Homo sapiens: one gene and its partners. The protein of the gene in region 1 interacts with the protein of each later gene in a pairwise test. Each region holds a gene or a part of one and is shown on either strand. Other genes may lie near its edges.

What was found. Proteins that work in one complex are often made in the same cells at the same time.
Region 2: the proteins of TMEM43 (region 1) and SCGB1A1 interact in binary tests that used the Homo sapiens proteins (3 or more experiments, as listed by UniProt).
Region 3: the proteins of TMEM43 (region 1) and GRAMD2B interact in binary tests that used the Homo sapiens proteins (3 or more experiments, as listed by UniProt).
Region 4: the proteins of TMEM43 (region 1) and CISD2 interact in binary tests that used the Homo sapiens proteins (3 or more experiments, as listed by UniProt).

What each region holds. Positions count from the first base shown.
Region 1 is NC_000003.12:14,128,052-14,131,551, forward strand, and holds part of TMEM43 (transmembrane protein 43), read left to right. Parts: intron 1-1,360; coding exon 1,361-1,510; intron 1,511-2,770; coding exon 2,771-2,905; intron 2,906-3,500. UniProt on the Homo sapiens protein: May have an important role in maintaining nuclear envelope structure by organizing protein complexes at the inner nuclear membrane. Required for retaining emerin at the inner nuclear membrane.
Region 2 is NC_000011.10:62,417,583-62,421,832, reverse strand, and holds the start of SCGB1A1 (uteroglobin precursor), read right to left. Parts: upstream 2,801-4,250; 5' UTR 2,738-2,800; coding exon 2,683-2,737; intron 1-2,682. UniProt on the Homo sapiens protein: Binds phosphatidylcholine, phosphatidylinositol, polychlorinated biphenyls (PCB) and weakly progesterone, potent inhibitor of phospholipase A2.
Region 3 is NC_000005.10:126,471,909-126,475,408, reverse strand, and holds part of GRAMD2B (GRAM domain-containing protein 2B), read right to left. Parts: intron 3,172-3,500; coding exon 3,105-3,171; intron 2,145-3,104; coding exon 2,041-2,144; intron 1-2,040.
Region 4 is NC_000004.12:102,878,992-102,882,491, reverse strand, and holds part of CISD2 (CDGSH iron-sulfur domain-containing protein 2), read right to left. Parts: intron 1-3,500. UniProt on the Homo sapiens protein: Regulator of autophagy that contributes to antagonize BECN1-mediated cellular autophagy at the endoplasmic reticulum.

The DNA.
Region 1 (3,500 bases):
CCAATAACTGTGTTCTTTGGTTCTCACCACAACCCTATGCACAGAGGAAATGGAAGGCACAAAGTGGTGAAGTTGCTTGCCCAAGACCCCGTAGCTGGTATGTGGCAGAGCATAAATGCAAACCCAGTTCTTCTGGCTCCAGAATCCTGCCCTAGACGATGACACTTTTGATCAGCAGTGGATGCACCCCAAATCATGCCTCTGTTATTGACCAAAGCCTGATCCACTCACCCTTGAGTTTGAGGCCCACTGTGAACCTGCCCAGAAATGCCTACCTCCAAGCCCTTTCTTCCTCCACTGCTCCCACCCAGCCAAAGCAGACAGGCAGCTGCTCCCCCAGAACCACTTCCTACTTCCTCATCACTGCTGATACGGTTCTCCCTTTAGGGATGCTCTTCCCCTAAGATCTGCCTCTAAGATTCCACTCAAGGGAGCCTCCTTGATACCCCAGGTGGAAGGGGTCACTCCTTGAGCACCAAGTCCACCCCCATCACAGGACCCTCTGTGTGACCTTCTAGTATTGTTTATGGTTGTGACCTCACTGCCCTAAGACTGTCTACTTCTGACCCCACAAGGGCTAGCACTGCCCTCAGAAAGCTCAGCCACTGTTTGCTGAATTTAATTAAAAATACATCTCTAATAACCTCTTTGTAAAATAGCTTGGCAGTTTCATAAAAAGTTAAACGTACATCTTCTTCACGAGCCAGCAGTTGTACTCCTAGGTATATTCCTACGGGAAATGAAAGCACATGTCTGCATAAAGGTTCATGTATGAATATTCACAGCAGCATTATTCATAACAGCCAAAACCTGGAAGCTGTCAAGATACCCATCCACTGACGAATGATTCAGCACACTGTGGTATAGTCATAAATGGAATACTACTCAGCCATGAAAAGGAACAAATTCCTGATAAACACCACAACATGAATGAATTGCAAAAGCAGTGCTCTGAGTCCAAGAAGCTGGGCAGAAAGGAGTTGGTGCCCTGATTCCATTTTTCTCAAGTTGTAGAAGAAACAAACTAATCTACGGTAGGAGAAATTCAAATTCAGATTCTCCCCATCCCCACCAGTTACCTCTGGTTGGTGGAGAGGGGGAGAATTGGCAGGAAAGGGGCACAAAGAAACTTTTTGGGGTGATGGAAATATTTTGTACCTTGCTTTAGATGTTGGTCAGATGGAATATACGTTTGTGGAAACCTGCCAAACTGTACATTGAATATCTGTGTGTTTTTACCACATACAGTTAAAACTAAAAAAAAAAAAAAAAAAAAAAAAAAATTGAGTATAAATAAATAGCAAATTTAATTTATTTTTAAAAACTAGTTTTCATTCTGTTACTGTTTCTTTTTCTTCAGTATTCCAGTACCAGTACCCGGAGAGAACATGTCAAAGTTAAAACCAGCTCCCAGCCAGGCTTCCTGGAACGGCTGAGCGAGACCTCGGGTGGGATGTTTGTGGGGCTCATGGCCTTCCTGCTCTCCTTCTACCTAATTTTCACCAATGAGGTAAAATGTCTGGGGTCTTCCTGTGCAGAGTGAGAGTCCCCACCATGTCAGAGAGCAAAGGCGATGAACCCGGAGGCTGGATTTGGTAATCAAGGGCCTAGATTTTAAAAAGAGAAAGGAGGATACTGAGTTAATCACAGTTCTTTCCATTGTGATCCATCCCACAGCTGATGTGAGCAGGAAGGGGAGTAGATCAGTTCACACACCTGAATATCCAGGGGTTAGCACCTGCCTCAGGCGTAGTTGGATCCAGGTGTTCATGCTGGGTCACCAGGAATCTCCATTTCTTCATCTTTTGCCTGTTTTTCTCTATTATGGTGTTTTTCTTGGGCAGGCACTTCATCTGTGATGGCAAATGTGGCCCCAGCAACTGGCCTACATCCAACCACTTAGCCCAGGGAAGAGAAAAACCATCTGTTTCTCTTCCTTTCTTTCTTTTCCTTTCTTTCCCCTCCCTCCCTCCCTCCCTTCCTTTGTTCCTTTCTTCCTTCCTTCCTTTGTCTCTCTCTTTCTCTCTTTCTTGTTTGTTTGTTTCTTTCTTTCTCTCCCTCTCTCTTTCTTTTTCTCCTTTTTTTTAATAGGGCCTCATGATGCAACAGTATATTTCTAAATCAATTTAGCAGCAGTTACAGGGCCATCTCTCAGTGTCCTGGCTTGGCTCTCCGTCCTCTGAATCAGTCTCCGTGTCCAGGGCGCACTCACATGTTCTGACTGGCAAGGTCTGGGTCCCATAATCTGACCAGGGTTCAGATAGACTCAGGTAAACCACATGGGCTGAGTAGGAGAGAGGAGAGCCAGGCATGGAGGCTCAAGCCTGTAACCCCAGCACTTTGGGAGGCCAAGGAGGCAGGATCGCTTGAGGTCAGAAGTTCGAAAGCAGCCTGGGCAACATAGCAAGACCCCATTTCTACAAAAAACTTAAACATAAAAATAAAATTAAAAAAAAGAAGGCAGAGAAAAATGGGGAGAAAGGGACAGGCAGGCAGAAACATCAGCTGTTCCCACCACTGGGGCAGTGCTAAGATTGGTGGGGGCTAGTGGGAACCAATGGGGCAGTAGGAAGAAGTCTCCCTGGGAAAGCAGGAATCTGGGTTCCAGTCCTTACTCTCCACTTGCTAGACCTCAGTTTTCCAACTGTACGGTGGGGAGATGGGTCTCAGCGCTCCCGGAGGCCCCATCCTACCCTAATACTTTGCAACAAGCACAGTCATGCTGAGCCACCCCTGAGCTGTTGAAATCCCCACTCCCCTTTGCTCCCAGGGCCGCGCATTGAAGACGGCAACCTCATTGGCTGAGGGGCTCTCGCTTGTGGTGTCTCCCGACAGCATCCACAGTGTGGCTCCGGAGAATGAAGGAAGGCTGGTGCACATCATTGGCGCCTTACGGACATCCAAGGTAGGTTTGGCAGGGGATGCTGACCTGCCAGTGGCTCGGGGCTCATCCTGGATGTTGTCTGGCTGAGGATTTGAAAGCATGGGCCTTGGAGATGGTCACACATGGGAGTGATTCCCGACTTTACCACTCAGCAGCTGTGTGGACTTGTCTATCCTGAGTCTCAGTGTCTTCGTGTATAAAATGGGGACGGTAATGGTTACAAGCTTGTGGCCAGCCTTGAGGATTTGGTGAGATTAGGTAACTAACGCCTTGGTACAGTGGCTGGCACTCAGGGAGGTGCTCTCATGACTCTGATGACCATGTGTGTCCAGTGCAAGGCCACAAAACTACCCTGGGCACCAGAGCTTTCCTGTTATTTGAACACCCTGTACGCTGTTGGCACCATGCCATTGGGCCATGCAGCCCAGGCCTGTACTGTGAGGGTCACAGTCACAGGCACTGTGTGTAAAGAACCTGGGACAGGGAGTGTCCTCGATTCTCCCCTGCAAAGCAGTGTAGGGCTCTCCACCCTTGTCCCCTTCTCTATTTCTTCCTCTTCCAGTCCAGCTTCCCCTGAGCCAGGCTTTCTGGGCTGACGTGAATGTTATCCTTTATT
Region 2 (4,250 bases), on another chromosome or scaffold:
CTGGCAGGAAAAAGCGATTGTAAGCCAGGCACGGTGGCTCACACCTGTAATCCCAGCACTTTGGGAGGCCGAGGCAGGCAGATCACGAGGTCAGGAGTTCGAGACCAGCCTGGCCAACATGGTGAAACCCCGTCTCTACTAAAAATACAAAAAATTAGCCGGGCGTGGTTCTGGGCACCCGTAATCCTAGCTACTCAGGAGGCTGAGGCAGGAGAATCACTTGAATCCAGGAAGCAGAAGTTGCAGTGAGCTGAGATCTCGTCACTGCACTCCAGCCTGGGCAACAGAGCGAGATTCTGTCTCAAAAAGCAAGCAAGCAAGCAAGCAAGCAAGCAAGCAAGAGAAAAGAAAAAGAAGAAAAGAAAAGAAAAGAAAAGAAGCCATTGAGATTGTACCAGCCAAACATGGGCCCCCGAACCTGGCCGGGAAGAGGTGTGCACATGTGCACAGCGGGCCCTGTGGCACACTCAGCTCATGGACAGAGCAGCCACTTGTACCACTTCATTCCCTTCAACACAGAGCTTCCAGACTCTGTTTTCTTCTCAGGTCCTTACAACCAGGAACATGGGGGAAAGTCACCATTTTCTACCCACTGCTTGCCTCCATCTTCCCAGTGAGTCTCAAATCCCTTTTCCTTGAATTCTCTGCCTTCTGAACAAATTTGCCTTCCCTCCTCTGACTCTAGGGCCTCACTAGAAATTGCCACTCCAAGTCAGACCCTCTCCAGAACTTAGGTCCTTGATGTGTAACTTACTGTGTCACCAGGCAAGTCACTCTGTGTTTCTGTAGCTCAGTTTTCTCATCTGTAAAATGGGAACAATATCCCTACTTCATTTTATTTTTTATTTTTTAAATTTTAATTTAATTTAAATTTTATTTTTATTTATTTATTTGTTTTCAGACGGAGTCTCGCTCTATTGCCCAGGCTGGAGTGCAGTGATGCCATCTCGGCTGACTGCAACCTCTGCCTCCCAGGTTCAAGTGATTCTCCTGCCTCGGCCTCCCAAGTAGCTGGGACTACAGGCATGCGCCACCATGCCTGGCTAATTTTTGTATTTTTAATAGAGACAAGGTTTCACCATGTTGGCCAGGTTGGTCCTGAACTCCTGACCTCAAGTGATCTACCCACCTCGGCCTCCCAAATTGCTGGGATTACAGGCGTGAGCCACCGTGCCTGGCCCAATATCCCTACTTCATAGGGTTGTTGTAAGAATAAAAAGAGAGGCCAGGCATGGTGGCTCACGCCTAATCCCAGCACTTTGGGAGGCCTAGGTGGGTGGATCACGAGGTCAAGAGATGGAGACCATCCTGGCCAACATGGTGAAACCCTGTCTCTACTAAAAATACAAAAATTAGCTGGGTGCAGTGGTGCGTGCCTGTAATCCCACCTACTTGGGAGGCTGAGGCAGGAGAATCGCTTGAACCCGGGAGGCGGAGGTTGCAGTGAGCTGAGATCGCGCCACTGCACTCCAGCCTGGCAACAGAGCGAGACTCTGTCTCAAAAAAAAAAAAAAAAAAGAATGAAAAGAGATATTATGTGAAAGGGTGACAGTGATTGGCACATTGTGTGAAGTAAGTGTTAAATATTGTATGCATGTGCACACAAATAGACAAATGCATCTCTGACCCACCCCTTAACATGTTGCAGTCCTATCTTGCTCAGCCACCCACCTCTGTACGCAGACAGCACTGAGATCTTCTAATTAATACACATTTCAGTCCAAAATGATGTCATTTTCTCTGAAAAACAAATAAACCTCTCTGCAAAATAGTTGTTCCTACTGCTTCTTGGTTTGGGTTTTCTAACTCCCCAGGGTCATAAAACTTATCTCCATGGGTGTTGTGAAGCTTTCCAAGTGAATTAATTGGAGTTTGTTTATTAAAAAATAACAACAGCATTTTCAGATGAGAATGGAAGAGGCTGACGCAGAGTGAAAAACAGAGTTAGATAACCCAGTTCCCCAAAGACGGGGGATCTTGGAGAGAGCTGTGATCCTTCTTTCCTTCCTTTCTCCCCCTCTCTCCGTCTCTCTTTCTGCCCCTCTTCCCCCCACAGTTCTTTTCCTTTTAGTGACAGCAGCAACTACTCAGAGACTCCTAATCCCTTTTGCAGAGGACGGAAATGTTTAGAAAACTTCACTCTGGGTTGGCAGTTCCCCAAAGGGAAGCTCTCTTTCTGGAATATTCCTCTGTGCCCAGAATGAGAGACCTTGTCTTGGGTTGGGTTTCTTTTGGGGTCACGAGTCCCTGCAGCTCCCCTTCCAGTGACTTCAGCTGCCAGCATGGAGTGGAGACCCCAGACTTGGAGGCTGCACCAAGGTCTCAGCATCTTGGAGTCTGTCCAGATCTGGGATGAGGGCCTCATTATTCCTATGCTGGATGTACTCATCTTTATGGGGTATTCTCCACTCCTCCCTCCAGGCTATTCCATTCCCTGGGATTCTGAGGGTTGTTGGATATAGAAGATGGGACCCTTTTTAGGCTTCCTTACAGCCTGGGGCTCTCTCCAAGTTTCCAAGATGAGCTTGCTCACCAGACCCAGTTTTCTGAGACTCAGCATGCCCAGGTCCTCCCAGCAGCTCCAGAGCAGGAATGGGCAGCTCACTCCTTCTTCTGAGCAGAACTGGGGGGTCCTGAGAGTTCCTAAGTCCAGGAGGGAGGGAAGGGTCTCTGAGCACTCACCGGAGCTGCAGCAGAGAGCCAGTGTGACCAGGGTGAGGGTGACAGCGAGTTTCATGGTGGAGGAGGGGGATGCTCTGGCCCGTCTCTGGTTCCGTCTCTGAGTCTGGTGGGCTAGTATGAGACATGCCCAGCAAGGTGCCTTTTATATGCTCTAGGCAGCAGCACCCAGATGGGGAAGGGCAGGGCAAGGGCTCTACATAAGATACTGCACTATTTACTTGGCATTGGCTTGGTGGGATAGGTAAATATTCCCTTTTCTCAACCCAGTTTCTGTCCCCACTGAAACTGAGCTCACACAATGGGCCACTTGGGGGTGGAGGGCCGAGCCCTGCCTGGAGGCAGTGAAGGGAACCCAAGTCAGAGGATGTGGAAACCCAGCTGCCTGTGTCACTCACTGAACCTGGGCACTGGGGCAGTCCAGATCAAGAGAAGCAATTGTGGAGCCCACCTGGAGAAACTGAGGCCCAAGTTCCCTCACAAGTGGCAGGGACAGGACTAGGACTAGGACTCAGGACCCTGACACTCCACTGGGCTCTTTCATAGGCTCCCCTCTGAGGAGGGCGACTGAACCTTAAGCCAGGAAAGACACATGGTTTGGAGCATTGCTGTGGTCAGACTTCGGGGGCCCCTGGATTGAAGCATGTTGAATAAAAGGGACCCTTCCAGAATTCCCATCAGAAACCTGAGCCCTGCCCCAGGCTGGGTCTGTTCCCACCCAGAAGTGCTCTCAAGTCCTGTGCTCCTGATGGCCCAATTGGTGGGACCTTCAGTCCTTATCTCACTTGACCTCCCAATGGCCTTGACACCTGTGACTGCTTCCTTCTCGAACCATTCTCTCTCTTGCGCTCCCACGCCTCAGTTCTTTCCTGTTTTCCTTCTTCTGGCCATTCCTTCTTGTTCTCTTTAGATGTTTATTCTTTACTGTTCTTAAGTGTTGATGGTTCCCAGGCTTTGGCCTTCTCCCCTTTCTTGCCTCCAGTTGCCATTTCCTGGTTCTTCTCCAAAGCCCGGGCCTCATAGCACCTAACCTGGCCTGGTCAAAATCCCCTGACTCGACCTCCCTGCCTCCCTGCTAGCTCTCCTCAGCCATCCTCTGAAAGGCCATCAGAATGATCTTCCTAAAACCCACTGGTCGTGTCCTTCTTCTTGAAACCCTTAAACTCTTCCTTTTGCCTAAAGAATAAAATTCAAGTGCAATTTACAAGGCCCTTGCCCACTGACCTTTGCCTACCATTTGAACTTCATTTCTCCTCTCCCCCACACAACGACTTAGCCCTCTCTTACTATTTGTGGATTCGAGAATGTTCCATGTTTTTTCATGCCTTTCTACCTATGCACAAGCTAAGCCTCATGCCTGAATACACATTTCCTGCCTTGTCCACTTCGCCAAATTCTATTCGTACTTCAAGACTCAATCAAATATTGATCCATTCATTCATCCAATAAATGCTGACCACCTATGATGTGCCAGATGTGGTGCTAGGAGTCGGGAACTGGGGTAGATAGACATGGAGAGGCATTGCGTGGCACTTCAAGAACTCCTCAAAAATAAATAAATAAATAAAAAT
Region 3 (3,500 bases), on another chromosome or scaffold:
GTTTCTGAGCAACAATACAAACATGCAGTGACAAAGGGCTAGAAATTTAGATTTTTCATAATCTAAGGCATGGAACACCCTTAAGAAGGAGTTTTCAAGCAATTGCTTCATGAGTATAAAATTACAACCAGATAACATTTGTAAAATAAAGCTTAAATCACTTTTCAGTTTGAGCTTAGACAGAATGTGATACATGCATGTTAATTTTACTGGCATCTGAAAATACCGACAGGCTGACTAAAAAGGTCCGGATTAAATTAAGGCTATACTTTATTAATATTTTTCCAGGGTAATGGTAACATTTTTCCAGGGTAAACTGCTTTAGAAGGGGAACTTGATTGGAAAGTTCCCGTTGTAGAGCAATTGTTTGGGTGCCTTCAGCTCATATTGGACCATGTTGGACTGAGGTCCATTGGCAGTGAGGAAATTCTGCAACATCTCTGAAGCCCAAATCTCCTTTGACACCATCCTTAGAAGGGATGGAACATACAAGTCACTATCATGGTTCTTATTCCCATGGCCTGCTAATTTTCAGTCTCCTGCTTCTGTAGGTTACACGTTGTAAAAGCAATCTCAGTATATCCATGTCTTCAAAAAACCAGGGTCACTCCTTCTAACTTCTTTTTATCAGTTCTTAGGTAGAAGTAGAACTTTAAAACCATTGCTAGAGTCAGATTAGCTTGAAAGTGCACTGACTGCCTTTGTGAATCCCCCATCCCTTAACAAAGACTAATACTTTGTTCATTAGTATCTTCAGTCCCTGCTGCTCTGCTCAGAGATGTTGGCTCTCTATGAATTCCTGAGAACTATATCACATTGATCAGTACTACCCAATCCCCTTCCCCATTCCATGAACAAGACCTTTAATCCAGAAATGTAGAAATATATGAAATACTGCTTCATATTGCTTTGTATTATACTGATTCAGATAATACTGTCGATCAAATAATGCTTAGCTAAACATAGCTCTATATGATAAAAAATCAATAAAAAAGAATATGTTTTACCTAAAGAATAGTATGTTAGCCTCTAGCTCCAACACCAACAAAAGAAAATATTCCTATTAGATTTGTTAAGTGGTCTTTATGCAATTGCCAGTGGTTTTAGAGAGAATATTTAAATAAGGCACATCTACTACTCAAAAAGAAGTTTTAATCAGCGACTTCATGAGTATGAAAGTTGCTTCTTCATAATCATGAATCAGAATGACTGAAAACTCACTAAGGTCATGCAAACCCAAGAAGGTGTTTCTCTGGTGTTATTCTGGAGGCCTGAATGAACTGTGATGTGACATCATAGCTCAAAGGTAAAAAAATGTCAGTGGGATAGAATTATCTTTTCTTTGATAGGCCATAGTCCCACGGTCCCCAGTTTAGAGGGCAGTGCCAATTCCTTTAGGCTGTTCTCCTTAATGCCTCAGGATGTCATGTGTCTCTGCTCCCCCAAATCTATATTTAATAATAATGAAAAGATGTAATATCAGAGTACACTTGGGATTGAGGATGTCTGACTTACCCAGGCTAGGCCTTAACTGCTCCACCTCCTGCTCATTTTGTGCTGGTGAGGGTACAAAGGGAGTGCTAATAAGTAGCTTATTTATAGGCCTGCTGTCCTACGCATCACTGGTAACTGGTATAAATATGGTATAAAAATTGATGTTTCTTAAAAGAAATGATTTTGGTTTAAATGTATGTCTTTGAAAATCATGGCACACCCTCCATATAAACAACTTTGAGTGCTCTCTGGTGACATCTGAGTAAAAAGGATTTAGGGTATGGTTATGGGTGAGGTACATGTGTATATATGAGGTATATGTGTATAAACAAATGAGTGAGAAAATAATGTTTAGGGAAAAAGGGAAGTTAGTGTCTTCTGGAGGCATTTAGAATGCATAGTATTTGGAATTACAACAAAAGAAACTTGACATAAAAGAATAACCATGATACAAATATCTACAAATATAGCTAAATTTAAGATGATTAATATTTACCATATATAATAAAGTATAGGGTTAGCATTTTTTTTTTTAATTATACCAACCTTTGTGTCTTTTCCAAAGACTTTGGAATGAAAACAAATCCAGTTTTCTGATACAAAGAGCTTTCCTTGGTATAGTATTTCTTTCTGTAGAGCACAGGTAAAGCCTGGGAAAATATACACAGGCACAGCATCATTTAGAATTTCCACTTAAAATAAAAACCGTGTATATATTTTGGTGACTCAAGGATGGGCAGAGATAATACATTCACACTCAAAAGTTTTATTACCTCTTCTTCTGTCATCTTTATGGAAAGAAAGCTGTGGCAACCAGTTTGCTTTTAAGTTCAAAGTCTTACCAACTTCAGTATAAATATCAGAATGAAAAGGCAAATCTACCATTGTACCTGAGAGACCAAGAATGGGGTCTTACAAGTCTCCTCTATTTAGCCTGGTGTGTCACCATGTGCTGATATTAGTACACCTGTTCCCCTTTTCCCCAGTATTTTCAGGAATGACTGTTTTCAAAATACATGGCCTCACTAGGGGAAGAGCACATAACCCACACCTCCTGTTTGAAGGTCATGGCAGGAACCCAGCATCTTGCCTCAACTTTTGCACATCAAGAGAGGCTAGAATGGAACTTTGGGCCCCTTGATGAACCACTGCAGAGTCTAGTAGGCGTGCTTAACTAGCATGCTGGGCAAGATATTTAGGTGACTATCTTACCCTTCATAGTGGCATCAGCACATGTCTGTCCATGTCTAAGGATGTGAGTTTTCTTTTAGCCTTCTTCTAGTGGCCTCTCTTGCCCCAGGCTTGTTATCCTAAATCTTAAAGCAATGTAACCATGTGCATTTCAGCAATAAATAAAGAAGGGAAGGGCATCACGGAACCATCTTGGGTGACTCCATACCCCATGGAGAACTGTTTCTTTTTCTCCTCTGTGATCTTTTCACGCTGCCTGGTGAAAGCTGACTGAAGCTGGTGTTATTGTTATGTTATTACTTTCAGAAACCTGATCCCCTTGGTGACTCAGTCCATGGACTATGCCCTTTTTCTTCCCCAAAACTAATGATCAACTTTTCAAATATGTAGCTTAAAAAGTCAAACAGGTCAGAACTTACTTTGCTTCAGTGGTTCCTCCGTTGGGACACTAAGAAACAACTTGTGAAAGTGCATATTGGCCTTGTACTACAATGAGAACAAAATACAAGCATCACCATTCTCACTTTCTTGTGAAACATCACAAATTCAACTTCAACAACAAATTTTCCCTCCCTTAATAGTATCTTTAGGAATTCCTTCTCACTGATCTTACAGTCTCTGACACAAGCCTTCAGTAAAACACAGTGAAAGTCTGGGCACACAGTTTCATTTTCTAACAAGTTTAATGCTTTGCTGGTTGGATATAATGATGCAGCTGCTGGTCAGCCTACTGCCGAGGTAACAGGGCTGGACAAGGATGTCCCTGATGAGAAATGGGATGAAATTCTAAGGAATCTCATTAGGGAAGATACTGG
Region 4 (3,500 bases), on another chromosome or scaffold:
CACAAACATGGTCTCTTCATGTACCTGAGGCCAGCGAAAGCTACTGTCTAGTAAGCAGCCTTTTTGAGTTCTTTGCATATGGAGTTCCTTCTGTTTTATCTGACTAATTATCTTAGCTTGCAATTGGCCCCAGCATCCAGTATGTAACTCGAAATAGCAGTCATTAAATGTTTGTTCAATGTAGAATAACATTAAGTATTATTGTACATATTACAATATTTTAGAAGTCATAAGAGCTTAAATTTATCAAAAAGCGAGTGAATGGGAACGCAAAGATGAAAATCTTATTTATTTATTTTTGAGACAGGGTTTCACTTCCATTGCCCAGGCTGGAGTGCAGTGGTGTGCTCTTGGTCACTACCACCTCCACCTCCCGGGCACAAGCTATCCTCCTGCCTCAGCCTCCCAAGTAACTAAAACTGCAGGAGCACACCACAACGTCTGGCTAATTTTTGTATTTTTAGTAGAGATGGGGTTTCACCATGTTGGCCAGGCTGGTCTCAAACTCCTGACCTCAAGTGATCCGCCTGCCTCAGCCCCACGAAGTCCTGGGATTACAGGTGTGAGCCACCATGCCTGGTTGAAAACCTTAATGTTAGACTCTTAAATATAGCATTTCCTATCTTAACCCACAAACCTCAAGAACAAATGGTATTACTACTGTTTTAAAATCCACTTCAGAAAATATTCTTTTGAACACTTAATTCCTTGGTAAAACACTATGCTTAAAAATACAGTGATGAGAGGTACTATTACCTCCTACAACAAAGTAATAACTTACCAAAGTCTTAACATAATCTACTTTTTAAAGATAACCAACTACAATTTAACTACTGAAAAACTTTATACATGAAAGCAATACAGCTTGAAAAGCTCAATTCAAATGACTGTAAGTACATTTATTCAGGCTGTTTTTGTACTGATACATAATAACTGTACATATTTATGGGGTACAAGTGATATTTTGCTACATGCATACATGCATATGATGTGCAATGATCAACTCAGTGTAACTGGGATATTCGTCACCTCATTTATCATTTATTTATATTGAGAACATTCCAAATTTTCTCTCCTATTTTGAAATATACACTAAAATTACTGATAACAATAGTCACCCTATTATGCTATTGAATACTAGAACTTTTTCTATATAACCGTACTATAGTGCCCATTAACCAACCTCTCTTCATTCTCTCCCTCCCTACCCTTCCTGGCCTCTGGTAACTACCATTTGACTATCTCCATGAGATCAACTTTTTTAGTTCCCACATATGAATGAGTACATAGAATATTTCTCTGTCAATTAAGGCTGATTTTATATGAAGAAAGATAAAATACAGAAGAATCAAACAAGAAACTTAAAAAAAATTTTACATGTGCTAGTCTCTATAGATCTGTTTGATATATGTTCAGCTATTACAGATATTTTAGATACTTTGAAAGGAAAATATTACTAACTGTAAATAATGTGCAAAAAAAATTTTTTTTTTTTTTTTTTGAGACAGCGTCTCGCTCTGTTTCCCAGGCTGGAGTGTGTGTCGTGTTAGCTCACTGCAATCTCCACTGCCCGGGTTCAAGCGATTCTCGTGCCTCAGTGACCTCCCGAGTAGCTGGGATTATAGGCGCACGCCACCACACCCAGCTAATTTTTGTATTTTAGTAGAGATGGGGTTTCACCGTGTTGGTCAGGTTGGTCTCAAGCTCCTGACCTCAGGTGATCCACCCACCTTGGCCTCTCAAAGTGCTGGGATTACAGGCGTGAGCCACCGTGCCTGACCAAATAAAATAATTTAAAATATATTTTTTTTTTAATGAGATAGTCTCACTCTGTCACCCAGGCTGATGTGCAGTGGCATGATCTTGGCTCACTGCAACCTCTGCCTCCCAGGTTCAAGTGATTCTTGTGCCTCCGCCACCCAAATAGCTGGGATTATGGACGTGCGCCACCACACCAAGCAAATTTTTGTATAAAATAATGTATTTTATTCAGCATATTATTTATTTTTGTCTTAGGATTATAAAAAATAACATTTATGTATTTATTTGGTAAATGTATCTCTTTTTTGGTATGTAAATACATAGGCTGTAAATGCTTAAAAAATAAGGCTATATTGCATTTTTCACTTAATGGTATGTCAGATTATTATATTATTTCCCCAACTCCTTAATATCAGTTGGAAACATAAATTTTAATGGCTGCATCTACCTATCATGTTCCCCACTCACAATATAAGAGATACAAGGGGGCTGGGCGTGGTGGCTTACGCCTGTAATTCCAGCACTAAGGGAGGCTGAGGTGGGCAGATCACTTGAGGTCAGGAGTTCGTGACCAGCCTGGCCAACATGGTGAAATCCCAACTCTACTAAAAATACAGAAAATTAGCTGGGCATGGTGGCACACGCCTGTAATCCCAGCTACTCAGGAGGCTGAGGCAGGAGAATCACTTAAATCCCGGAAGTGGAGGTGGCAGTGAGGTAAGATCTCACCACTGCACTCCAGCCTGGGAGACAGAGAAGAGACTCTATCTCAAAAAAATAAAAAAAATAAAAAATAAAAGAAAAAGAGAGATACAAGGGCAGGGACCTTATTTGTCTGATCATCTGTGTCCCCAGTGTCTATATAACGTCTGGCTCAATTTATTTAACTTACTTTTGTTTGAAGTGTTTAATTTACAGTTCAGTTTATTGAGCTTTGTGCTTTTTGTTTGTTTGTTTTTGAGATGGAGTCTCGCTCTGTCGCCCAAGCTGGAGTGCAGTGGCATGATCTTGGCTCACTGCAACCTCTGCCTCCCGGGTTCAAGCGATTCTCCTGCCTCAGCCTTCTGAGTCACTAGGATTACAGGTGCCTGCCAAAACGCCCTGCTAATTTTTATATTTTTAGTAGAGATGGGGTTTCACCATGTTGGCCAGGCTGGTCTCAAACTCCCATCTGCCTGCCTCAGCCTCCCAAAGTGCTGAGATTACAGGCATTAGCCACCGCACCTGGCCAAGCTTTGTGTTTGTGAAGCGCTCAGTTTGATGAGTTTTGTAACTATATGGACCTATAAACACCACCTAAGACAAAATACATTTCCATTGCCCCAGAAAGTTTGCTCTTGTAGTACTTTCCCAATCAATCCCCCCCTTCTGATTTTTATTAAGTGCTTACTAAACATTTTCTGAAAGAATAAATCAATTTCTCATTGTTAAACAAATTTTTACTATATAATTATTACTATAAAAATTAAATATTTACTATATAATTATTAAGTATCTACTAATATGGTTTGGCTCTGTGTCCCCATCCAAATCTCATCTCAAATTGTAATCCCATAATCCCCACGTCAAGGGAGGAACCTGGTGGTTGGTGATTAAATCATCAAGGCAATCTCCCCCATGCTGTTCTCCTGATAGTGAGTTCTCATGAGATCTGGTTTTAAAATGGGCTCTTCCTGCTTTGCTCTTCACTCTTCTCTCCTGCCTCGTGAAAAAGGTGCCCCTTCCACCATAATTGTAAG